Homo sapiens: one gene and its partners. Each later gene encodes a partner of the first gene's protein in a complex. Each region holds a gene or a part of one and is shown in the gene's direction. Other genes may lie near its edges.

Region 1 (6,100 bases):
TGACTCTCTTTTTCTTTCACAGAATCCCTCTTCCTGAGTTGAAAGATTCAGATAAGTTGGATAAGATAATGAATATGAAAGAAACCACCAAACGAGTGCGCCTTGGGCCGGACTGCTTACCCTCCATTTGTTTCTATACATTTCTCAATGCTTACCAGGTTGGTAAAAAAATTGGGCGATTTCTGCCTGGAGAGTCATGTAGGATGATGATTTACCATTAAGAGAGAAACAAATGTATTAGCTAAAATGGAGTTTCGTTATTTAAACTCCTTTTTTTTTTTTTTCTGAGACAGAGTCTCGCTCTGTCGCCCAGCTGGAGTGCAGTGGCGCGATCTCAGCTCACTGCAATGTCCGCCTCCCAGGTTCATGCCATTCTTCTGCCTCAGCTTCCCCAGCAGCTGGGACTACAGGCGCATACCGCCATGCCCGGCTAATTTTTTGTATTTTTAGTAGAGATGGGGTTTCACCGTGTTAGCCAGGATGGTCTCGATCTCCTGACCTTGTGATCCGCCTGCCTCAGCCTCCCAAAGTGCTGGGATTACAGGCATGAGCCACCGCATGTGGCCCCTAAACTCTTATACAATTTAAAGACAGCATTCAGGAAGAGAGAATTGGATACTGCACAGAATAGATAGAAGTCAATGTTTAATGGCATTTGTTTCACCGATCAGAATTCTGCTAGCCTTTGAGGAGGAGCAAATTGTAGTTCATTTCTGTTGAACTTGGTTTAAGTACTTACGTAAACTTATTTATCAATTTTTTTTTTTTTTTGAGACAGAGTTTTGTGCTGTCACCTAGGGTGGAGTGCAGAGGTGAGATCTCAGCTCACTGCAACCTCTGCCTCCCGGGTTCAAACGATTCTTGTGCCTCAGCCTCGGCCTCCTGAATAGCTGGGATTACAGGCACCCTCCACCATGCCTGGCTAATTTTTGTATTTTTAGTAGAGACAGGATTTTGCCGTGTTGCCCAGGCTGGTCTTGAACTCCTGACCTCAAGTGATCTGGCCGCCTCAGCCTCCCAAAGTGCTGGGATTACAGGCGTGAGCCACCGTGCCCAGCCATATAAACCTTATTTTATTTTATTATTTTAATTTAATTTCATTTTTTGAGATGGAGTCTTGCTCTGACACCTAGGCTGGAGTGCGGTGGTGCAATTTTGGCTCACTGCAACCTCCGCCTCCCAGTTCAAGTGATTCTCCTGCCTCAGCCTCCTGAGTAGCTGGGATTATAGGCATGAGCCACCACGCCCAGCTAATTTTTGTATTTTCAGTAGAGAAGGGGTTTCACCAGGTTGACCAGGCTGGACTTGAATTCCTGAGCTCAGGCAATCCACCCGCCTCAGCCTCCTAAAGTGCTGTGATAACAGGCATGAACCCCCGCGCCCGGCCAAACTTAGTATTTTATTTTATTATTATTTTTTTTTTGAGATGGAGTCTCACTCTGTCGCCCAGGCTGGAGTGCAGTGGCACGATTTTGGCTCACTGCAACCTCTGCCTCCTGGGTTCAAGTGATTCTCTTGCGTCAGCCTCACAAGTAGATGGGATTACAGGTGCCCACCACCCTGCTTGGCTAATTTTGGTATTTTTAGTAGAGATGGGGTTTCACCATGTTGGCCAGGCTGGTCTTGAACTCCTAACCTCAGGTGATCCACCTGTCTCAGCCTCCCAAATTGTTGGGATTACAGGCATGAGCCAGTGCGCTTGGCCAATATTTTAAATCAAGAATTTTAAAAGTCTTTATATATTCCTTAAAATAGAGGATTGAGGAGATATTTAGTATAGTGTGAAAATGATTAACATTTGCTTCCTATCTCTAAATATCCTAAAATAGTATTGTTTAGTCTAACCCTTTTATTGGCAGGGTCTCACTGCAGTGGATGTCACTGATGATTCTAGTCTGATTGCTGGAGGTTTTGCAGATTCAACTGTCAGAGTGTGGTCGGTAACACCCAAAAAGCTTCGTAGTGTCAAACAAGCATCAGGTAACTGAGATGACCTTTTGGAATGTGAACTTGCCATTAGTCTATACCAATCTTGATTCCATGGAAAATACACAGGAGATTGTGTTCTTTACAGAAATTCACTTGATTTTACTTTAACTCAAGATTCTAACATTCCCAACAGTGAAAAAAGCTTTGGAGTGACTGGGGTGCTAGACTGGTTTAATTTCTTTAGGTCTCAGTTTTCTCATCTGTAGAATGAGTGAGTATTAAGCTAAAAAACTTAAAGTTAAAAATCTAACATTTTATGATTGCTTGTAAATCTTAAAAAATCTTTAAATAAGGGATGGTACTTCCTGTTTTAGTCATAAAAATGGCTAAAAAGAACAAATAAGGTCAGGATTTTATTTGAAAGTTTTTTACTTTTTGTTTTTTTGAGACAGAGTCTCGCCCTGTCACCCAGGCTAGAGTGCAATGGCGCAGTCTTGGCTCACTACAGCCTCTACCTCCCAGGTTCAAGGGATTTTCTTGTGTCAGCTCCCCAGCTCCCCAGTAGCTGGGATTACAGGTGCCCACCACCATGCCCAGGTAATTTTTGTATTTTTAGTAGAGATAGGGTTTCGCCATGTTGGCCAGGCTGGTCTCGAACTCCTGACCTCAAGTGATCCGCCTGTCTGGCCTCCCAAAGTGCTGGAATTATAGGTGGCTCACTGCAACCTCCACCTCCCTGGTTCAAGCGATTTTCCTGCCTCCACACCCGGCCTGAAATAAAGTTTTTTACTAACTATATTATTTAAATAAAACAATATATTTTAAATTATTTCAATATTTCCATAGGTTTTTTTTTTTTAATTTTAAATTTTTTTTAGATGGGGTCTCACTCTGTTGCCCAGGCTAGAATGCAGTGGTGTGATCACGGCTCACTGCAGCCTCTAATCCCTGGGCTGAAGTGATCCTCCCACTTCAGCCTCCTGAGTAGCTGAGACTACAGGTGTGTGCAACCACACTGGCTAATTTTTTATTTTTTGTAGAGACAGGGTTTCTCCATGTTGTCCAGGCTGGTCTCGAACTCCTCTGGGCTCAAGCAATCTGCCCGCCTTGGCCTACCAAAATTCTGAGACTACAGGTGTGAGCCACCATGCCTGGCCCATAGTTTTCATTTTGTGAAACACTGTGGCATAGTGGGCAAAACTGAGTTTCAGTTCTGGTTCCCACACTGAGTAGCTGTGTGCACTCTAGCAAATTATCTGTTCTGAACGTCATTTTCTTCTCTTACACGCTGAGATGATACTGCCTAATTTAGAGGGATTAGCAAAGTGCGGTTGGTATATAGGAGGAAATTTTCAAATGTTAATTCCTCTCCTGCACTGTGATATGATTACTTTAAAAGTTTTGATGAATGTACTTATAAAATATCAATATTTCTGGACCATTTTAGATCTTAGTCTTATAGACAAAGAATCAGATGATGTCTTAGAAAGAATCATGGATGAGAAAACAGCAAGTGAGTTGAAGATTTTGTATGGTCACAGTGGGCCTGTCTACGGAGCCAGCTTCAGTCCGGATAGGTAAAATACAAACAATAAAAATTAAATACTGCTATGTTATATTGAAATTATATAAAAGTTAACTACTGGAAACATTATGCAAATGCTGGGAAAATTCTGATAAAAATCTCATGGTTGTCTGACGTTCATCATCTTTTAGAATCTTGCCATTTGCTAATTCATCTTTGAATCCTGGTGTTTGTACATGGTAGCAATTTAATGTATACTCACTTTTTTTTTTTTTTTTTTGAGACAGAGTTTCGCTCTTGTTGCCCAGGTTGGAGTGCAATGGCGTGATCTTGGCTTACCGCAACCTCCGCCTCCTGGGTTCAAGCGATTCTCCTGGCTCAGCCTCCTGAGTAGCTGGGATTACAGGCATGCGCCACCACACCTGGCTAATTTTATTTTTTTATTAGAGATGGGGTTTCTCCATGTTGGTCAGGCTGGTCTTGAACTCTCAACCTCAGGTGATCTGCCCACCTCAGCCTCCCAAAGTGCTGGGATTACAGGCGTGAGCCACTGTGCCTGGCCTGTATACTCAAATTTATAGAATCAAAATGCACAGTTTCAGGGCTTACTGGTTTTAAAAATTAGCTTTAGTATTTCCCTTTTTTTTTTTTAATTATTTTTATTTGTTACCCAATGGTAAATAACCAACCAAAGCTTTAGTTTTATAGAACTCCATTAGGGGTTGAATTGCTTCATTGGGTCCCTGCATTGTGTCTTCTGGCTGCTTCATCAAATTTAAGACAAATTCCTGACATTAATGGCATATTAGCTAGTAATTGAGGATTAATCTTTCTATAATCAAAAGTACTAAGAGTAAATGAAAAAGGAAATTCAAAATTGGTTTGCTTCCCTTTAGGTGTATGATTACAATGTCATCCTATGTGTATAGGTATTTGCCTATTTTTCATGATCTCTAACACTGTAAAAATGGGTGGAGGGTGTTTTGTATTCATAATACCATCAGTATATTACTTGGATAGATAATAGCTTTCAGGCCGGGCACAGTGGCTCACGCCTATAATCCCAGCACTTTGGGAGTCCAAGACAGGCGCATCACCTGAGATCAGGAGTTTGAGACCAGCCTGGCCAACATGGGAAATCCTGTCTCCACTAAAAAGTACAAAAATTAGCAGGGTGTGGTGGCGCCCACCTGTAATCCTGGCTACTTGGGAGGCCGAGGCAGGAAAGTCACTTGAACATGGGAGGCAGAGGTTGCAATGAGCCGAGATTGCACCACTGCACTCCAGCCTGGGTGATAAGAGCAAAACTCCATCTCAAAAAAAGAAGAAAAGAAAAAAAGATAATAGCTTTCCATCCATCAAGGTTTCATCATTACGAAACTTTGAGAATTAGGTTTTTTGTTGCTTGATAAGGTTTTGCCAGATGATACATTTTTGAGGGAAACGTCTGATTTCAGTGAAAATTGTAATAACCTTCTGACTATCAATCTTTTGTGTTTATGCTTGAAAAAGGTAGAGAATTATTAGCATGTCTGTAGTTTTTTTTTCTTTTTCTTCAAAAGACATTTCCTTTTTAATTCTTACATAGCTTACACAGCATGGGAAAATAGCATCTTTATTTTAGGGTCAAAAATTGTTGAGTTTTAAGTGACATATCACATTTCTTAAACTTTCTCAATTGACCTTATTTGACTATACTTTGTTAATTACCCCTGCTATTTTTTTCTTGTAAAGAACTCTGATTTTCCCTAAGTTTTTGTATCATATTACCTCATTCAGTAGGTGCTCGGTATATGTAGAGTGTCAGGGTTAACATTAGTTTGGTTAGTTCTTTCAATTGATACCTACTGTGAATTGCGTGTATGAATTAAAAGTGAGATGCAGCATGTTAGGTATATTTAATATAGTCAAATATATATAAAATATTAAATGTATTCAAATGTATATAAAACTGGGCAGGTGACCAAAGGTTACTCTGGGAGTCAAATATATCACCTTCTCTTCTCTCAGGAACTATCTGCTTTCCTCTTCAGAGGACGGAACTGTTAGATTGTGGAGCCTTCAAACATTTACTTGTTTGGTGGGATATAAAGGACACAACTATCCAGTATGGGACACACAATTTTCTCCATATGGATATTATTTTGTGTCAGGGGGCCATGACCGAGTAGCTCGGTAAGAACACTGTGATCTTATGACTGGGTCTATTCAATGAACAGAATGGTTTCTTGTTGGGAATTACACAGCCAGCCAAATTCATTTACACTTCCATTATTGAGGTTCAACTTTCTGAGAAGCTTTTGCATTTATAACTTATTTGAAATTGGGGCCGGGCGCAGTGGCTTATGCCTGTAATCCCAGCACTTTGGGAGGCCGAGGTGGATGGATCACCTGAGGTCAAGAGTTTGAGACCAGCCTGGCCAACATGGTGGAACCCCGTCTCTACTAAAAATACAAAAATTAGCCGGGCGTGGTGGTAGGCACCTGTAATCCCAGCTATTCAGGAGGCTGAGGCAGGAGAATCATTTGAACCTGAGAGGCGGAGGTTGCAGTGAGCCGAGATCGCACCATTGCACTCCAGCCTAGGGGACAAGAGCGAGACTTCATCTCAAAAAAAAAAAAAAAAAAAAAAAAAAGAAAAGAAAT
Region 2 (6,100 bases), on another chromosome or scaffold:
CGGCTAATTTTTTGTAATTTTAGTAGACACGAGGTTTCACCATGTTGGCCAGGCTGGTCTCGAACTTCTGACCTGAGGTGATCCACCCGCCTTGGCCTCCCAAAGTGCTGGGATTACAGGCATGAGCCACCGCATCCGGCCTCCTCCCACCTTTTACTTTTCTACTATGCTCATCACCCCTCCCGCTGTGCCTGCTTTCCCACCAGCTCCCAAAGAGCAACAGAAGGCTGAAGCCACAGAACCCCTGAAGTCAGCCAAGCCAGGCCAGGAGGAAGACGGACCCCTGAAGGGCAAAGGTCAAGGGGCCACCACAGCCGACGGCAAAGGTCAGTCCTCCTAGGCTAGGCCTCTCTGGACTCTTGCCCAAAGCCACATGGCCGTTTGTTTTGTTTCCTTTTTTTTTGTTTTTGAGACAGAGTCTCACTCTGTCACCCAGGCTGGAGTGTAGTGGTACGATCTCAGCTCACTGCAACCTCCACCTCCAGGGTTCAAGCGATTCTCCTGCCTCAGCCTCCTGAGTAGCTGGGCTTACAGGTGCCCACCACCACGCCCGGCTAATTTTTGTAATTTTTTTTAGTAGAGACAGGGTTTTGCTATGTTGGCCAGGCTGGTTTCAAACTCAGCCTCATGTGATCCGCCCGCCTTGGCCTCCCAAAGTGCTGGGATTACAGGTGTGAGCCACCATGCCAGGCCTCCATGTGGCCATTGGTGAAGTGGCTGAGGTCAGGGCCAGAGCCCCAGAAAGGATGGGGGAGCCTAAGAAGAAGCCAGGTCTCCTGGGTCTCAGGGGAAGTGGAGGGTTAAGGTTCTTCTGTTACTGAGGTTTCTTCTGGAGCTTTCTTTGTCAGACCCACCTTTCCAATCACACAGGGAAAGAGAAGAAGGCGCCGCCCTTGCTGGAGGGGGCCCCCTTGCGACTGAAGCCCCGGAGCATCCACGAGTTGTCTGTGGAGCAGCAGCTCTACTACAAGGAGATCACCGAGGCCTGCGTGGGCTCCTGCGAGGCCAAGAGGGCGGTGAGGGCCCCACCAGCTTGCCCTGGCCCTGAGACGCCTCCTCCTGGGGGCCCTATGAATTGCTCCCCACATCCCACCCCCACCTGACTGGCTTCCCTCCTCCCACAGGAAGCCCTGCAAAGCATTGCCACGGACCCTGGACTGTATCAGATGCTGCCACGGTTCAGTACCTTTATCTCGGAGGGGGTGAGAGCATGAGGTTCCACAGTGCAGGGACGGCAGTGGAAGCTCCTGTGAGGGTCTCCCTGCCCCATGCCCAGCACTTCTCCCTCCCACAGGTCCGTGTGAACGTGGTTCAGAACAACCTGGCCCTACTCATCTACCTGATGCGTATGGTGAAAGCGCTGATGGACAACCCCACGCTCTATCTAGAAAAATACGTGAGTGATCCTGCCCATCCTCCCTTCCAGGGACTAGGGACCCTGCTGCCACCAACAGGAAGTCAGTGGTCAGCAGTGGCTCACACCTGAAATCCCAGCAACTTTGGGAGGCCGAAGTGGGAGGATTGCTTGAGCTCAGGAGTTTGAGGACAGCCTGAGGACAGTAGTGAGACTGCTATCTCTACAAAAAAAATTAACCAAAACAAAATTAGCCAGGCATGGTGGTGCACACCTGTGGCCCCAGCTACCTGGGAGGCTGAGATGGGAGAATTGCTTGAGCCCGGGAGATTGATGCTGCAGTTAGCCATGATTGTGTCCCTGCACACCAGCCTGGGTGACAGAGCAAGACTTTATCTCAAGCAGACAAACAAAACCAGAATCAGCTGTCCCGCCCTTTCTCCCTTAGGTCCATGAGCTGATTCCAGCTGTGATGACCTGCATCGTGAGCAGACAGTTGTGCCTGCGACCAGATGTGGACAATCACTGGGCACTCCGAGACTTTGCTGCCCGCCTGGTGGCCCAGATCTGCAAGCATTTTAGCACAACCACTAACAACATCCAGTCCCGGATCACCAAGACCTTCACCAAGGTGAGCCAGGAAAACTTGAGCGTCATTTGCTTCATCACTGGCCACCTCTGGTTGGGGGAAGTCACACTGGAAACAAGGGGGCAGAGGGAAGAGGGACTGGAACTTGTGGGGGTCTAAGGGTCTTGAGGCTTGTCTGTAATACCTTTTTTTTTTTTTTTTGAGATGGAGTCTCGCTCTTGCCCAGGCTGGAGTGCAGTGGTGCAATCTCTGCTGACCGCACCCTCTGCCTCCTGGGTTCAAGCGATTCTTCTCCCTCAGACTCTTGAGTACTTGGGATTACAGGCACCTGCCACCACAACTGGCTAATTTTTTTGTTTTTGTTTTTTTGAGATGGAGTTTCGCTCTTCTTGCCCAGGCTGGAGTGCAATGGTGCAATCTTGGCTTACCACAACCTCCGCCTCCTGGGTTCCAATGATTCTCCTGCCTCAGCCTCCCGAGTAGCTGGGATTACAGGCATGTGCCGCCACACCCAGCTAATTTTGTGTTTTTAGTAGAGACGGGGTTTCTCCATGTTGGTCAGGCTGCTCTAGAACTCCCGACCTCAGGTGATCTGCCTGCCTTGGCCTCCCAAAGTGCTGGGATTACGGGTATGAGCCACTGCACCTGGCCACAACTGGCTAATTTTTGTATTTTTAGTAGAGACAGAGTTTCACCATGTTGACTAGGGTGGTCTGGAACTCCTGACCTCAGGTGATCTGCCTGCCTCGGCCTCCCAAAGTGCTGGGATTACAGGTGTGAGCCACCACGTCTGGCCTCATTGTAATGTCTTAATGATTTACAAGGAAAGTGTCTATGAAAGACTTAGGTCCCTGTCAATCATCCTTTCAGACCCCTTCATCTTAGTTTATTTCCTTCCCCTTACAGAGCTGGGTGGACGAGAAGACGCCCTGGACGACTCGTTATGGCTCCATCGCAGGCTTGGCTGAGCTGGGACACGATGTTAGGCCTCTGGGAGGAAGAAATGGGGGAGGGGACACAGTCATGAGGTTATAGAGGGCACTGTACCCCCATCTGGGAGACCCTGGTGACCCTCCGGCTTTTGCTTGTCCTTTTCCCTTCTAACAGGTTATCAAGACTCTGATTCTGCCCCGGCTGCAGCAGGAAGGGGAGCGGATCCGCAGTGTGCTGGACGGCCCTGTGCTGAGCAACATTGACCGGATTGGAGCAGACCATGTGCAGAGCCTCCTGCTGGTGACTGAAGCCCCTGTCCCCACACCTGCCCACTGAGACACAGGCAGTGTTTAGCAAGCATATGGCATATTTTATTCACTTACTCCCATCTTTGCCTCATGTTTTCAGAGGACATTGCAGAGTCTGATACTATTTTACAGATGGAAAGACTGAGATTAGACTGAGTAAGAAATAAGGGGGCTGGGCATGATGGCTTCTGCCTGTAATCCCAGCACTCTGGGAGCCTAGGAGTATGAGGCCAGCCTGGACAACGTAGCGAGATCCCACCTGCAAAAAAAAAAACCAAAAAGCCGGGAGTGGTGACGTGTCTGTGGTCCCAGCTACTAGGGAGGCCGAGGTGGGAGGATTGCTTGAACCCAGGAGTTCAAGGCTACAGAGAGCTATGATCGTGCCACTGCACTCCAGCCTGGGTTACAGAGGGAGACCACCGCCCCCCAAAAAAGAAGGGTTTAACACGCTCAGCCTGTGGCATTTGGACCATCCTTCCCCAATGCTCCTGTTACTCTGTGGTCTTCTCTGTACAAGGCAAATGCGCTCTTGATTAACCATCCTGCCACAGTATTTAGCAAGTTCATTCACACATTAGTGCCCATGTTTTCTTTTTCTTTTCTTTTTTTTTTTTTGAGATGGAGTCTCACTCTGTAACCCAGGCTGGAGTGCAGTGGTGCGATCTCAGGCTCACTGCAACCTCTGCCTCTCAGGTTCAAGCAATTCTCATGCCTCAGCCTCCCAAGTAGCTGGGACCACAGGCACGCGCCACCATGCCTGGCTAATTTTTTGTATTTTTAGTAGAGACGGGGTTTCACCATATTGGCCAGGCTGGTCTTGAGCTCCTGACCTCAGGTGATCTGCCAGCCTCAGCCTCCCAAAGTGCTGGGATTACAGGCATGAACCACCACACCCAGCCATTCTTTTTTTTTTTTTTCTGAGACAGTCTCACTCTGTCACCCAAGCGGGAGTGCACTGATGCAACCTCTGCTCACTGCAGCCTCCACCACCTGGGTTCAAGCATTCTAGTACCTCAACCTCCCCAGTAGCTGGGACTACAGGTGCGTGCCACCATGCCTGGCTAGTTTTTGTATTTTTAGTGGAGATGAGGTTTCTCCATTTTGGCCAGGCTCTTGACCTCAAGTGATCCACCCACCTCAGCCTCCCAAGTGCTGGGATACAGGCCTAAGATGCTGCACCTGGCCCCGTGCCCATCTTTTCTTATGAGAAAGCCCACAGTGTTCTGTACACACACTAATAGTTCAGCATAATTTGGCCTTCAACAGGGGCACTGAGATGATAAGGAATGTCCTTTTTTACCCCATCCCCAAGGTTCTTCTCAAGAGTGTCACCAGCCCTCCCTCTACCTGGCTTTTTTCCCCAGCCCTCCCTCTACCTGGCTTTTTTTCTGTTCTGCAGAAACACTGTGCTCCTGTTCTGGCAAAGCTGCGCCCACCGCCTGACAATCAGGACGCCTATCGGGCAGAATTCGGGTCCCTTGGGCCCCTCCTCTGCTCCCAGGTGGTCAAGGCTCGGGCCCAGGCTGCTCTGCAGGCTCAGCAGGTCAACAGGACCACTCTGACCATCACGCAGGTCCGTGGCCGGGTGGGGAGGAGGAATAGGAGGAAGCAGAGGAGAACCCCTGTGTGGGACAGGCACTTGCACACAGCCACATGTGCCCTCAGTCAGTAGTCTCAGGGCAACCAGGCCCTGAGTGAGGATGCCCCAGCCCTAGTGAGAGCCACTGAGGAAGAGCGAGGGGAGCCCAGGCCTCTCCCTTCAGACTCCTCTTCTTAGTAGATGGTGCCACTTCCCCCTTTCCTCTTCTCCCCGCAGCCCCGGCCCACGCTGACCCTCTCGCAGGCCCCACAGCCTGGCCCTCGCACCCCTGGCTTGCTGAAGGTTCCTGGCTCCATCGCACTTCCTGTCCAGACACTGGTGTCTGCACGAGCGGCTGCCCCACCACAGCCTTCCCCTCCTCCAACCAAGTTTATTGTAATGTCATCGTCCTCCAGCGCCCCATCCACCCAGCAGGTATGCAGAGCTGTGGGACAGGGAGCATCTGGAGGGCCTGGGTTACCTCAGAGCACCCTGGGGAGGCCCAGGAGTAGAGCACAGTCCCCTCTGGGCCCCAAGTCAAGAGCTGGAAGAGGCGCCCACCAGGGTCCTGCAGGGCTGTAGCTGCCCTGCATGAACAAGGTCTCCAGCCATAGCTGTCTACAGGGTGAACTACAGGAACAACTTGTTCAGGCAGGGAGCGAGTGAAGCGTCCTCGCCAGGCCTCTGGGGGGCAGGGAGGGCACAGGGCAAGCGGCCTGCCTTTCCTTTCTATCCAGGTCCTGTCCCTCAGCACCTCGGCCCCCGGCTCAGGTTCCACCACCACTTCGCCCGTCACCACCACCGTCCCCAGCGTGCAGCCCATCGTCAAGTTGGTCTCCACCGCCACCACCGCACCCCCCAGCACTGCTCCCTCTGGTCCTGGGAGTGTCCAGAAGTACATCGTGGTCTCACTTCCCCCAACAGGGGAGGGCAAAGGAGGCCCCACCTCCCATCCTTCTCCAGTTCCTCCCCCGGCATCGTCCCCGTCCCCACTCAGCGGCAGTGCCCTTTGTGGGGGGAAGCAGGAGGCTGGGGACAGTCCCCCTCCAGCTCCAGGGACTCCAAAAGCCAATGGCTCCCAGCCCAACTCCGGCTCCCCTCAGCCTGCTCCGTGATGCTCCACCTGCCAGCCCCCGGATTCCCACACATGCAGACATGTACACACGTGCACGTACACACATGCATGCTCGCTAAGCGGAAGGAAGTTGTAGATTGCTTCCTTCATGTCACTTTCTTTTTAGATATTGTACAGCCAGTTTCTCAGAATAAAAGTTTGGTTTGTAAGTTCTGATCCACTGCAGTCCTTCCTGCATCAGATACCACAGAAAGGCTGGGCC
Region 3 (4,312 bases), on another chromosome or scaffold:
CTATACTTACTTTTTTGTTTGTTTGTTTGAGACAGAGTCTCGCTCTGTCACCCAGGCTGGAGTGCAGTGGCGCGATCTCAGCTCACTGCAAGCTCCGCCTCCCAGGTTTACGCCATTATCCGGCCTCAGTCTCCGGAGTAGCTGGGACTACAGGCACCCACCACCAGGCCAGGCTAATTTTTTGTATTTTTAGTAGAGACGGGGTTTCACAGTGTTAGCCAGGGTGGTCTCGATCTCCTGACCTCGTGATCCACCCACCTCAGCCTCCCAAAGTGCTGGGATTACAGGCGTGAGCCTCTGTGCCTGGCCACTTTTTTTTTTTTTTTTTTGAGACAGAATCTTACTGTGTTGCCCAGGCTGGAGTGCAGTGGCGCAATCTCGGTTCACTGTAACCTCTGCCTCCCCGGTTCAAGCATTTCTCCTGCCTCAGCCTCCTGAGTAGCTGGGACTACAGGCCCGTGCCACCTCTCCCAGCTAATTTTTTGAATTTTAGTGGAGACTGAGTTGCACCATGTTGCCTAGGCTGGTCTTGAACTCCTGAGCTCAGGCAATCCGCTCGCCTCAGCCTCCCAAAGTGCTGGGATTACAGGTGTGAGCCACCTCACTGGCCCTATACTTACTATTTGTAATGATCAATTGGATAAATGTATATTGGGGGTTATGAGATTGATGAAGGAGACAGTGGACTAAAGCCATAAGCTGGGAAAATGCATATGGATGTGATGTTGATAGGGAATTTAAAAGAGATAAAGGATATTTCAGTGTTTTATAAGGTACAGCTGTTAAATATCTGAGTAGAAAGTTTCCTTAGGAAGCAGAAGAGTCGTGGAGTTGTAGAGGAGGTAAATTAGGGCCGCATATGTAGATTTGGGTTTAATCTAGGTGAAGGTGATTCTTGAGAGAGGGAATAGGGAACGTATAGGGGAATAAAAGCAGAGTCTTTAGGACGAATTCTTGAGTGATGCCAATGGTTAAGGGGCAGTGAAAAGAGTAATAAACTGCAGATGACAGATAGAAAAAGTGTGTCATCTCTCATTTGAGAGATGAAAGACCAGTCTTAAGGGAAACTGACAGAGGGAGAAGATTCCCAAAGTGCTGGGATTACAGGTGCGAGCCACTGTGCCTGGCCCAGTATGAAAATTCTAAAAAAGATATGGTCAGGAAAGGAGCAAATGTTTCAAGCAGCTCTTGGAAACGCTTTCATATGTTGTATGATTTTTTCTTTTCTTTCTTTCTTTTTTTTTTTTGAGACAGTTTCACTGTGTCGCCCAGGCTGGAGTGCAGTGGCGCAATCTCGGCTTACTGCAACCTTCACCTCCCGGTTCAAGTGCTTCTTGTGCCTCAGCCTCCCAAGTAGCTGGGATTACAGGCACATGCCACCACTCCTGGCTAGTTTTTGTATTTTTGACAGAGATGGGGTTTTGTCATGTTGGCCAGGCTGGTCTCTGAACTCCTGACCTCAGGTGATCTGCCCGCCTCAGCCTCCCAGAGTGCTGGCGTGAGCCACCATGCCCAGCCATCATATCTTGTGTGAGATATTATATATGTTATAGCAATTGACTTGCACCGTGATGTCATCTCTTTCTGAAGGCTAAAGCTATGTTTCAGATAGATATGTAAAATATTTTGAGGCATGGTCTTGCTCTGTCACACGATTACTGCTCATCAAAGCCTTGACCTCCTGGGCTCAAACTGTCTCCCGACCTCAGCCTCCTGAGTAGCTGGTACTACAGGCGTGTGCCACCACGCCTAGCTAATTTTTGTATTTTTTGTAGAGATGGGGTTTCTCCATGTTGTTTAGGCTGGTCTTGAAATTCTGGGCTCAAGTGATCTGCCCATCTTGGCCTCCCAAAGTGCTGGGATTACAGGCGTGAGCCATCATGCCTGGCCCTCACCTTGCTTTTTTCACTTGTGTGTTCTTAAGGGATATGCATAGTGTTTCATGTGGTGCTTTAAATTATTGAGTGGCCCTGTAATCCCAGTACTTTGGGAGGCTGAGGCAGGTGGATCACAAGGTCAGGAGTTCGAGACCAGCCCGACCGACATGGAGAAACCCCGTCTCTACTAAAAATACAAAAATTAGCTGGGCGTGGTGGCACATTCCTGTAATCCCAGCTACTCAGGAGGCTGAGGCAGGAGAACTCGGGAGGTGGAGGTTGCAGTCAGCTGAGATTGCACCGCTGCACTCCAGCCTGGGCGACAGAGCAAGACTCTGTCTCAAAAAAAAAAAAAAAATTGAGTGGCAAGGAAGCTTAAGGCGGTTGTATAATATTTTGGATATTGAGGAGATCACCTTCTTGGTTTTATTAGATTATGATGAAGATGACTATGATGCTGATTGTGAAGACATTGATTGCAAGTTGATGCCTCCTCCACCTCCACCCCCGGGACCAATGAAGAAGGATAAGGACCAGGATTCTATTACTGGTGGTAAGTAGAGATTGTCTACTTTTGTCTGAGGAGCAAGTTTTCATTCCTAAGTCCAGGCTTGTGGCACACACATAAGGGACAAACTTAAGCTTATATGAAGGGACAAAACTTCTAGAAATAATTCATACAATCGCAAATTTTAGTATTAAAGGGAAGTTTTACTTTTAAAACATTTGGCAACAGTATTTTAACATGTGCTCAAGAAATAGTAGTTTAGTCAGTGGTTCTCAAATCTGGCTACCCATCAGAATCACTTAGAATCTTTAAAAAAAAAAAACAAATACCTGACTTTCACCCCTTGAGCCTGATTCAGAAGATCTTGGGTAGAGTCCAGGAATTTAATTAAATTAATTAAAATTTTTTTGAGAAAGAGTCTTGCTGTGTTGTGCAGGTTGGAGTGCAGTAGCACGATCTTGGCTCACTGCAACCTCCGCCTCCCGGGTTCAAGTGATTCTCATGCCTCAGCCTCCAGAGTAGGGGCTGGAACTCCTGACCTCAAGTGATCCGCTCGCCTTGGTCTTCCAAAGTGCTGGGATTACAGGCGTGAGCCACTGCTCCCTGCCGAACCCGGGAATCTTAAAGAGTTTCTTAAGTAATTTATGATACAACTGATCTGTATACTGGTATTTGGAAACTACTTGTTTAGATGGCTTTATTTTAAATGAAGTGGTTAAATTAGGAAGGTGCCCTGGAATGTTGATAAATCAGATAGTGTCAACTACCAGATATTCAGAGATTTCAAAGGCTAGTAGAGTCTTCAGTGTTTATCTTACCTATTCCTATAACAGTAACTGTCCTAGGCTTGAAAACTGGGGAAGAGCAGTGTTTTTGACCTCCTGTATTTTGAGGCTTGTATTAACCTAAATTCTTCCTGTTGGAGTTTTAAGCCATTTCTTTTAACAGTCTGCTAAATGTCAGCTGTTAACTTTGTTTTATAGATCTTATTTATGCCAAAGAACCTTAATGTTGTCCCGTGGGCTTAAAAAAATTCTCCAGCTCATGAGTCTCTGAACTAGGACTACCTGAGTGGTATAAAGTATTACATAGTTTTGCTATTGGTCACAACATTGGTTACAATATTGGTTACTTATCAGAAAGTAGGGCCAGGTGTGGTGGCTCACACCTGTAATCCGAGCACTTTGGGAGGTGGAGGCAGATGATTTGAGGTCAGGAGTTCAAGACCAGACTGGCCAAGATGGTGAAACCCCGTCTCTACTAAAAATGCAAAAATTTAGCCAGCTGTCGTGGCGCATGACTGTAATCCCAGCTACTCAGGAGGTTGAGGCAGGAGAATCACTTGAACCCGAGAGAGAGAGGTTTCAGTGAGCTAAGATCTCACCACTGCACTCCAGCCTGTGCGACAGAGCAAGACTCTGTCTCAAAAAAAAAAAAACAACAAAAAATCGGAAAGTAGTAAATGTAGTAATAGTGTTTGTTTTCTCATCACAACCCTAGGGTACCAGGTACGTGGTGAGTTGGGGGACGATGGGAGATAACGAGTTAGAATGAGTTTTCTGGGTTGCATACTAGTATTATGATTTGGGTGCTTGGGCCTATATCTCCTGGCATTGAGCCATGTGTATAGCCTAAAGTGGGTGTTTGCGGAATTCGAGGAAATATGTTCACAGTTACATGCCAAAGGGGTTTCTCTTCCTTGTTGCAGTGTCTGAAAATGGAGAAGGCATCATCTTGCCCTCCATCATTGCCCCTTCCTCTTTGGCCTCAGAGAAAGTGGACTTCAGTAGTTCCTCTGACTCAGAATCTGAGATGGGACCTCAGGAAGCAACACAGGCAGAATCTGAAGATGGAAAGCTGACCCTTCCATTGGCTGGGATTATGCAGCATGATGCCACCAAGCTGTTGCCAAGTGTCACAGAACTTT
Region 4 (6,100 bases), on another chromosome or scaffold:
CCAAAGGTAGCCTTACTCCACAATTACTTTTGCTAAGCATCTGTTGGAGGGGCTTTATACACATCCTCCCACTGGAGGCCAGGACAGTGGTTAACGCTGTGTTACAGATAAGAAGATTGAGGCTCAGAAAAGGGAACTGTTCACTTGAGGTCTCACACACCAGGATTCAAACCCTAGCTTCAGGGGCCCTGTCTTTATACCTGCTGGTTGACCTTAGACACACCCTCACACTCTTTCACCTCATTGAGACTCAGTTTTCTATTCTGGCTCAAACACAAGAGTTTATCTCATGGAACAGTCTGGGTACATGTTGCAGGTTATCTAAGGTAGGGGAAGGGGCAGGTCTCTATCTCATATCATCAGACAGGGACCCCAGCTGACGGTGGCCTTGCAGTCTGCACAAGGTCACTCTGGGCGTAATTGTCACTCCAGTCCCACAGAATAAGAGCAAGGAGGCCGGGCGCGGTGGCTCACGCCTGTAATCCCAGCACTTTGGGAGGCTGAGGCGGGCGGATCACAAGGTCAGGAGATCGAGACCATCCTGGCTAACATGATGAAACCCCGTCTCTACTAAAAATACAAAAAAATTAGCCGGGCATAGTGGCAGGCGCCTGTAGTCCCAACTACTTGGGAGGCTGAGGCAGGAGAATGGCATGAACCCAGGAGGCGGAGCTTGCAGTAAGCCGAAATTGTGCCACTGCACTCCACAGCCTGGGTGACAAAGTGAGACTCCATCTCAAAAAAAAAAAACAAAACAAAACAAGGAGGAGTGTGTGAAGGAAACTTTTTGGCCCATGCCTAGCTATGGCTCTTATCTCTTCTGATCACTTTCCCCTGGAGAGAACTTGTCACATGACCATACCCGCCTGCAAGAGAGCCTGGGAAGTACAACTGGACAGGCATTGCCTAGCTGCCGTGGAGGAAAGAAGAGTATGGCATTCGGACAGCTAGCATCTCCGCCACAGCAGGCCTAGCACACTGCCTGGTGCGTTGCAGACGCTTCACAAACCTTAGCTGTTCATTACCATCATTGAGTGTTAATCATTTCTCTTCTGTGTTCCTTTTTCTTCACATCAGTACGAAAATAAAAGGGATTTCTAGAATGATCAAAGCAATTTGGGATTGGTATGGGAAGGCTTCCCACGGTAGGTGGGATGGGAAAGATAAAAGGATATTTCTGGTGTTTGAAGACTGTCAGTGTAGGTCAGAAAGGAGCAGGAAAGTGGAACAGCTATTTTTCCTTCCACTCATTTTTGTGGTCTTCTAGGAAAATATTATTTCCCCTATGGAGGATTCTCCTATTCCTGACATGTCTGGGAAAGAATCAGGGGCTGACGGGGCAAGCACCTCCCCTCGCAATCAGAACAAGCCCTTCAGGTGAGTGGTGTCCTATCCACAACCCACAGTCTGGCCCCCGCTTCTGTTGGCTTCTCTCCATCTCAACCTGGGGAAGTCCTCATCAGTAAGAGGCTGGGGGCAGTTAGGTGAAGCCTAATAGCAGTCTCAAGTGTGAGTGATGACCCAGCGTGTCTGCATGCACAGACTGAGTGCAGGGTTGTTCAGCACAGAACTGTTCATACCATAAATAACCCAAATGTCCTGCTGAAGGGGAATGGTTGGCTAAATTGGCATAACTCCATATGATGAAATAACTTGGGGCTATTAATCATATAGCTGCAAGTATAGAGAAATATAGTTAAATGACATGAAAAGATGTAAATTATAGAGTGACAAGTGGAGAAAATATTAGTTGTAGCCCAGTATGGATGGTATAATACTATTTTTACTTAAAATATATTTCTTTTTTTCTTTTTCTTTTTTTTTTTTTGAGATGGAGTCTCGCTCTTGTCGTTTAGGTTGGAGCGCAATGGCGCAATCTTGGCTCACTGCAACCTCCGCCTCCCAGGTTCAAGCGATTCTCCTGCCTCAGCCACCAAGTAGCTGTGATTACAGGCGCCTGCCACCATGTATGGCTCATTTTTGTATTTTTAGTAGAGACGGGGTTTCACCATCTTGGCCGGGCTGGTCTTGAACTCCTGACCTCAGGTGATCCTCCCACCTCGGCCTTCCAAAGTGCTGGGATTACAGGTGTGAGCCACCATGCCTGGCTTACTTACAATATATTTAAATATGTGCACATAAGGGAAAAAACCTGGACTAATATGTAGCAAAAGATTAGGAATAATATATAACAAAATCTGGAATATATATAATAATATATAACAAAATAATAGTAATTCTCTCTGGGTTGTTGGCATTATGGGTTTTTCCATATTTTTTGAATAGTAGATACATACGTTGCTTGTTTTAAAAACCAGACCAGATGTGTCTGTCCCTCCCTTTGTATCTGGATAGATACAGAGGGGGTGCCCAAAGGGAAAGGCAGGTTTTCACTGACCTTGGGAAGCCCTGGGAACCTCCAAGGTGGGCCCTTCTCCAAGCTGGCTCTTGAGTCTGACGGGCCTGCCTCCCGCTGCAGTGTGCCGCATACTAAGTCCCTGGAGAGCCGCATCAAGGAGGAGCTAATTGCCCAGGGCCTTTTGGAGTCTGAGGACCGCCCCGCAGAGGACTCCGAGGATGAGGTCCTTGCTGAGCTTCGCAAACGGCAGGCTGAGCTGAAGGCACTTAGTGCCCACAACCGCACCAAGAAGCACGACCTGCTGAGGTGAGCGTTAGCAGGATGCACAGTCCCGGGGGTGGCCTTGGAGGCTGTGGCCACGGCTAGTCACCTTTCAGGGGTTTTACAACAGGCTTTCCAATCCTGGCTGGCCTCTAAATCACCTGGAGAGCCTCGAAAAAAACAGCAGTGGCCAGTCCACCGGGTATGTCCCAAACAAATTCTGATTCCACAGAGTGGGGCTCAGGCATCTGTGACTGACCGATTGATTTGATTTGTTTTTGTTTTGTTTTTTTTTGAGAGGGAGTCTCGCACTGTCACCCAGGCTGGAGTGCAGTGGCATGATCTCGGCTCACTGCAAGCTCCGCCTCCCAGGTTCATGCCATTCTCCTGCCTCAGCCTCCTGAGTAGCTGATACTACAGGCACCCACCACCACGCCCAGCTAATTTTTTTGTATTTTTAGTAGAGACGGGGTTTCACCGTGTTAGCCAGGATGGTCTCGATCTCCTGACCTCGTGATCCACCCGCCTCGGCCTCCCAAAGTGCCGGGATTACAGGCGTGAGCCACTGCGCCTGGCCTAGTTTGGTTTTTTAATTATGGTAAAGGCATAATATAAAATGTATCTCCATGGGAGGCTGAGGCAGGAGAATCAGTTGAACCTGGGAGGCGGAGGTTGCAGTGAGCTGAGACTGCACCATTGCATTCCAGCCTGGGCAACAAGAGTGAAACTGCATCTCAAAAAAAAAAAGAAAAAAAATTTACGCTTCTTAACCATTTTTAAGTGTACAGTTTAGTAGTGTTACCCATATTCACATTGTTGTGTGATTTATTTTTTGTCTTTTCATGCTTCTTTTCTTTTTATCCCCAAAGTTTTGTTATTAAAAATTTGATACACACAGAAAATCTGAAAGAATCATACAATAAACATCAGTATATTCTCCACCTAGACTAATTAACTGTTAACATTTTGTTGGAGATCTGTGATTTTTATTTGCTCATCACAAGAAATTGACCAGTGTTTTAGGACATGTTCTTTTGGGAATCCATCACAGTGCCTGCCATTCATTTGATGTCAACTCCCATCCATCTTGTTCTGCATTGATCACGAGGGTATAGGTGACATCTTGAGGAAGACTGTGGAATAGCTACCCTTTAGGTAAAGAGATAGGGAAGCAACCCGAACAAGTCTCTTTGCTTCTCACAGACAAGTGCTGTGTCTTAACTTCATAGAGCCCTGACAGGACAGGGCACATTCATTCATTTGGCCTTTTTTTTTTTTTTTTGAGACGGTGTCTCACTCTGTTGCCCAGGCTGGAGTGCAGTGCCATGATCTCGGCTCACTGCAACCTCCGCCTCCCGGGTTCAGGCAGTTCTCCTGCCTCAGCCTCCTGAGTAGTTGGGATTACAGGCATGCACTACCATGCCAGGCTAATCATTTGGCCATTCTTACTGTCTCTTAGATATTGTGCTGGGGGCCAGCAAGAGAGGCAGAGCAAGGGACTTGCAGATTACTAGCAGATGATCAGTAAAGATAAGTGCCATTAAAAGGAGAGGTAGTTGCTGACAAGCTGCCAGGGTATTTAAGGATAAGAGTGACTAATGTATGCTGAGGGCCTACTGTGTGTCAGGGGCTTTATGTACACTCTCTCAAGTGTCTTGACAACAACCCAGGAGGGAGGAGCTATTTTCGTTGTTTACCAGATGAGGAAATAAAGGCCCAGTGAAGCGAAATGCTCTGCTGAAGGTCACACAGTCAATAAACAGCAAGCTGAGACTTGAACCTGTGGTTGAATCAAAGCCTCTTTCTATAATAGTTTGTTTTCTCTGAAAGGTGAGAAGAAGAAAACACAGATGGAAGAGGCACTGAGGGAAGCAGAGGGAGAGAGAGGAAGAGAGAGAAAAGCAGGCATGTGCAGTTACAGAAGTAGTGGGCCCTAGCTGGGCCTGGTGGCTCATGCCTGTAATCCCAGCACTTTGGGAGACTGAGGTGGGAGGCTTGTTTGAGCTCAGGAGTTCGAAACTAGCCTGGGCAATGTAGTCAGACCCCCTTCTCTACTAAAAATTTTTAAAAATCAGCTAGGCATGGTGGCACATGCCTATAGTCCTACTCAGGAGGCTGATGTGGGAGGATTGCTTGATCCTGGGAGGTAGAGGCTGCAGTGAGCTTGATCAGGCCACTGTACTCCAGCCTGGGTGACAGAGTGAGACCTGTCTCAAAAAAAAAAAAAAAAAAAAAAAAAGAAGTAATGGGCAATGAAGAAATGGCTTGCAGCTCTCAGGAAACCAGAGCACAGCCCTTACCCTGCTGCAGAGCAGCTGCAAGGCCTTAAGCAGCCCCTGACCTGAGCATCTCCTTCCCCTTCTGGAAAACTGGCAGGCTGGACTCAATCACTAAGTGACCTTCCAGCTCCACCATCGATGAAATGTATAAATCAGACCCTGTTCAGAGAGATTGATCTGGTGTCTCACCCACCTCCTGTCAGCCTCAGGCTGCCTAGACCTTAGGGGGCTCTGGAATGCAGATGCCGACGTAAGCAGGCCTTCTGCTGGCACCGGAACACCTGAAACAACAGTGTTTAAAAACAAGAGTTTGGCCCCAGCCTGCTCCAGATCTCCCCCTCACTAACTGTGGGATCCTGGGATCATCTTTGAGCCTCATTTTCCTCACGGGTAACATATGAATAATAGTACATATTTTGCAGGGTTGTTAGGATTAACTGAAAGACAGAGAGAGAGAGTGGGTGTGCCTGTGTGTGTGTGTTTGTGTGTGTGTATGTATATATATATATATTTTAGAGACAGGGTCTTACTCTGTTGCCGAGGTTGGTCTCAACTCCTGGCTTCAAGTGATCTTCCTGCCTCCATCTCCCAAAGCGCTGGGATTACAGGCATGAGCTACTTTGCCCAGCCTACTGTGTATATTTTTAAGACCTTTTTTTTTTTGAAGACACAGTCACGCTCTGTTGCCCAGACTGGAGTGTAGTGGCATGATCATAGTTCACTGTAACCTTGAACTCCTGGCCTCAAGCAATCCTCAGCTCCCTTGGAGTTGGGACTACAGGTGTGCACTACCACACCCAGCTAATTTTTTAAATTTTTTGTAGAGACAGTCTCACTATGTTGCTCAGACTGGTCTCGAACTCCTGGGCTCAAGTGATCCTTCTGCCTTGGGCTCCCAAAGTGCTGGGACTGCAGATGTGAACCCCCATGTGCAGCCAAGACTTTATTCTTCTAGAGCAGTTTTAAGTTCACAACAAAATTGAGAGAAAGGTACAGAGAATTCCCGTATCTCCCTGTCCCCACATGTGCACAGCCTCCCCCGTGATCAACATGAGTTAATATTTTTCAGGAGCTTAAGATAGTGCCATGTAAGTGTAGGTCAGTAACTGCTTTTTGGTCACGACTGTATGACACAATCCACAGGCATGCCAGCCTGGGCTGGTGGGTAGGCTCGGTCTTGAAGAGGGAGGGGTTGTTCTCT
Region 5 (3,500 bases), on another chromosome or scaffold:
ACTAATGAATTAGCACATTAAAAAACATAAATGATAAAATTAAAACATTATTTAAAATGTAAATGTATAACATTACAAAATATGAAAGGCTATAGGCACTAATATGGAGATCTTTAAAGTTATAAAGACATTTAATGTTCAAGTTTAGGCCAAATAAATGTGAAAATCTGAGAAAAATAGGTGATTTTTTAAAGGAAAATACAAACCACCAAACTTGAAGCACAGTTAGAAAACTTGTATAAATCAGTAACTAAAAAGAAATTGAAAAGATTGTCAAAGATAGACTACCTTCATCCCACCTATTCCCATATTCCTGTATGAGTTTAAATTTGAATTCCTCTTTAGGGACAAGTTAAATCTCATTAATGAGTTTTGTAGTATACTTAAGATTCTACATTAAGTCAGAGGGGGTGAAGTTTGGATTTGATTTTTATTATTAAACAGCCAGTTTTTTAAGTTCAGGGGTACATGTGCAGGATGTGCAGGTTTTGTTACATAAGTAAATGTGTGTCATAGGGGTTTGTTGTATAGATTATTTCATCACCCAGGTATTAAGCCTAGTGTCCCTTAGTTATTTTTCCTGATCCTTTCCCTCCTGCCACCCTTCATCCTTCCATATACCCTTCACCCTTCCATATACCCCAGTGTGTGTTCCCCTCTATGTGTCCGTGTGCTGTCATCATTTAGTTCCCACTTATTAGTGAGAACATGCAGTATTTGGTTTTCTGTTCCTACATTAGTTTGCTAAAGATAATGGTCTCCAGCTCCATCCATGTCCCTGCAAAGGACATGATCTCCTTTTTTATGGCTGTATAGTATTTCATGGTGTATACTGGAAAATACATTTTCTTTATCCAGTCTACCATTGATGGGCATTTAGGTTGATTCCATGTCTTTGCTATTGTGAATAGCACTGCAATGAACATAAGTGTGGATGTGTCTTTATAATAGAACAATTTATATTCCTTTGGGTATATACCCAGTAATGGGATTGCTGGGTCAAATGGTAATTCTGTCTTTAGGTCTTTGAGGAATTGTCACACTGCCTTCCTCAATGGTGAACTGATTTATACTCCAACCAAGAGTTTAAAAGCTTTCCTTTGCCTCCACAACCTTGCCAGTATCTGTTATTTTTTGACTTTTGAATAATAGCCATTCTGACTGATATGAGATGGTATCTCATTATGGTTTTGATTTGCATTTCTCTAATCAGTGAAGCTGACCTTTTTTTCACATGATTGTTGGCCACAGGTATGTCTTGTTTTGAGAAGTGTCTTTGCCTACTTTTAAGTGGGGTTTGAACAGGCATTTATTAAACATCCAGCATAAGTAAAATTGCATTAAATGCTGATGGGGGGGAGATATAAATAATAAGAGACAAACCTATCTTCAAAAAGACTAGTAATGTGAAATAAACATTTGCATGAAACAGTAGGATTGAAGAATAAGAACAAAAGAGCACTACGTGTGAGAAGCTCACTTGAAAGTCCCAAATTGAAATAAACACTGTTTTGATGAGAAGGGGCCTCCTTTTTAATATTCTTTCCATGTGGAATCATCAGCAGTAAAGAGATCTATAGATCTGGAAGCAGAAGAGCTGGCTGGATGGAGGGGACTTTGCTGACATCCCCTCTGAAAAATAAGGTCAGAAGAGTGGGCCCGGGGGAGGGTGATTTTCATGATCCATGGCATTTCATTACCCTTGTAAACAGATACTGGAGCTGTGCTCATAGCCAAACTGGAAAACTAGATTATTTAGCAGGTTTTCTTTCCATAGCTGAGCCATAATCTTCCCTTAGGAGAGATACTGTATCTTATCCTTGATGGTACAGTCAGTGCCTAGAACTGAAAAACTACTCAATAAATGGATTTGTTGTTTTGTGATAAGGATGATGTCTTCTTACTTTGCCCAAGCCTGGAAAGTAGGCCAAATATATAATAGAGTTTCTTTCATCTTCCCAGCTCGAGAGTCAGGATGTCTCAGATTTAACAACAGTTGAAAGGGAAGACTCATCATTACTTAATCCTGCAGCCAAAAAACTGAAAATAGATACCAAAGAAAAGAAAGAGAAAAAGCAGAAAGTAGATGAAGATGAGATTCAGAAGATGCAGTAAGTCACTTTCTTATCATTCCCCATTTCGAGGCTCTCACTTGACCACACAAATTTAATAAATTTTTCTTGGTGTTTAAATTTTCTTTTATAAACTCAAAAGAAAATAAAACGATTAATACATTATGGCTGGGCATGGTGGCTCACGCCTGTAATCCCAACACTTTAGAAGGCCAAGGTGGGAGGATTTCTTGAGGCCTAAGTTTGAGACCAGCCTGGGCAACATAGTGAAACCCTTTCTCTAATGTTATGTTATGTTATGTTTTTTTTTTTATTTTTTATTTTTTTGAGATAGAGTCTCACTGTGTCGCCCAGGCTGGAGTGCAATGGTGTGATCTCGGCTCACTGCAGCCTCCACATCCTGAGTTCAAACGATTCTCATGCCTCAGCCTCCCGAGTAGCTGGGACTACAGGCATGCACCGCCATGCCCAGCTAATTTTTGTATTTTTAGTAGAGACAGGGTTTCACTATGTTGGCCAGGCTGGTCTTGAACTCATGACCTCACGTGATCTGCCCGCCTCGGCCTCCCAAAGTGCTAGGATTACAGGCATGAGCCACTGTGCCCGGCCTCTATTTAAAATTTTTTTTTTTTGAGACAGAGTTTCGCTCTCGTTGCTCAGGCTGGAGTGCGGTGGTGCAATCTCTGCTCACTGCAACCTCCGCCTTCTGGTTTCGAGCGATTCTCCTGCCTCAGCCTCCCAGGTAGCTGGGACTACAGGCTCCTGCCACCATGCCTGGCTAATTTTTGTATTTTTAGTAGATACAGGTTTTTGCCATGTTGGCCAGGCGGGTCTCGAACTCCTGACTTCGTGATCCGCCCGCCTCAGCCTCCCAAAATGCTGGGATTACAGGTGTGAGCCACTGTGCCTGGCCAAAAACAATTTTTTCAAATAATTATGTTACAGCATAGAAAATATAAATAGATAAAAAGAAGGCCGAGATCGGTGGCTCACACCTGTAATCCCAGCACTTTGGGAGGCTGAGGCGGGTGGATCACTTGAGGTCAGGAGTTTGAGACCAGCCTGGCCAACATGGTGAAACCCCGTCTCTACTAAAATTACAAAAAATTAGCCAGGTGTCGTGGTGGGTGCCTGTAGTCCCAGCTACTCGGGAGGCTGAGGTAGGAGAATTACTTGAACCCAGGAGGCAGAGGTTGCAGTGAGCCAAGACTGCGCCACTGCACTCCAGCCTGGGCGATAGAGCCAGATGCTGTCTCAAAAAAAATAAATAGATAAGAAGAAAAAATAATTACCTTACCACAGAGATATATCCTGCTTATAAGTTTCAAGATAGTTTCTATACATATATATCTATAAATTTTTTTTTCCACAAATGTCAAATACTGTTTTGTAGCCTATTTTTCACATTAGATATGGTGAATGTTTTCC

What was found.
Region 2: TAF5 (region 1) and TAF6 share a complex: the UniProt entries of both Homo sapiens proteins name them as parts of the TFIID basal transcription factor complex.
Region 3: TAF5 (region 1) and TAF1 share a complex: the UniProt entries of both Homo sapiens proteins name them as parts of the TFIID basal transcription factor complex.
Region 4: TAF5 (region 1) and TADA3 share a complex: the UniProt entries of both Homo sapiens proteins name them as parts of the TFTC-HAT complex.
Region 5: TAF5 (region 1) and TAF11 share a complex: the UniProt entries of both Homo sapiens proteins name them as parts of the TFIID basal transcription factor complex.

Annotation. Positions count from the first base shown.
Region 1 is NC_000010.11:103,379,862-103,385,961, forward strand, and holds part of TAF5 (transcription initiation factor TFIID subunit 5), read left to right. Parts: intron 1-22; coding exon 23-158; intron 159-1,859; coding exon 1,860-1,980; intron 1,981-3,376; coding exon 3,377-3,506; intron 3,507-5,464; coding exon 5,465-5,629; intron 5,630-6,100. UniProt on the Homo sapiens protein: The TFIID basal transcription factor complex plays a major role in the initiation of RNA polymerase II (Pol II)-dependent transcription.
Region 2 is NC_000007.14:100,107,024-100,113,123, reverse strand, and holds the end of TAF6 (transcription initiation factor TFIID subunit 6), read left to right. Parts: intron 1-206; coding exon 207-326; intron 327-870; coding exon 871-1,016; intron 1,017-1,124; coding exon 1,125-1,202; intron 1,203-1,294; coding exon 1,295-1,396; intron 1,397-1,802; coding exon 1,803-1,985; intron 1,986-2,849; coding exon 2,850-2,924; intron 2,925-3,050; coding exon 3,051-3,176; intron 3,177-4,084; exon of another isoform or gene 4,085-4,583; coding exon 4,584-4,757; exon of another isoform or gene 4,758-5,000; coding exon 5,001-5,198; exon of another isoform or gene 5,199-5,500; coding exon 5,501-5,878; 3' UTR 5,879-6,054; downstream 6,055-6,100. UniProt on the Homo sapiens protein: The TFIID basal transcription factor complex plays a major role in the initiation of RNA polymerase II (Pol II)-dependent transcription.
Region 3 is NC_000023.11:71,372,857-71,377,168, forward strand, and holds part of TAF1 (transcription initiation factor TFIID subunit 1), read left to right. Parts: intron 1-2,310; coding exon 2,311-2,430; intron 2,431-4,093; coding exon 4,094-4,312. UniProt on the Homo sapiens protein: The TFIID basal transcription factor complex plays a major role in the initiation of RNA polymerase II (Pol II)-dependent transcription.
Region 4 is NC_000003.12:9,780,593-9,786,692, reverse strand, and holds part of TADA3 (transcriptional adapter 3), read left to right. Parts: intron 1-1,267; coding exon 1,268-1,377; intron 1,378-2,479; coding exon 2,480-2,665; coding exon of another isoform or gene 2,666-2,669; exon of another isoform or gene 2,670-3,567; intron 3,568-3,584; exon of another isoform or gene 3,585-3,681; coding exon of another isoform or gene 3,682-3,712; exon of another isoform or gene 3,713-5,010; coding exon of another isoform or gene 5,011-5,180; intron 5,181-6,100. UniProt on the Homo sapiens protein: Functions as a component of the PCAF complex. The PCAF complex is capable of efficiently acetylating histones in a nucleosomal context. The PCAF complex could be considered as the human version of the yeast SAGA complex.
Region 5 is NC_000006.12:34,881,543-34,885,042, reverse strand, and holds part of TAF11 (transcription initiation factor TFIID subunit 11), read left to right. Parts: exon of another isoform or gene 1-1,605; coding exon of another isoform or gene 1,606-1,644; intron 1,645-1,962; coding exon 1,963-2,111; intron 2,112-3,500. UniProt on the Homo sapiens protein: The TFIID basal transcription factor complex plays a major role in the initiation of RNA polymerase II (Pol II)-dependent transcription.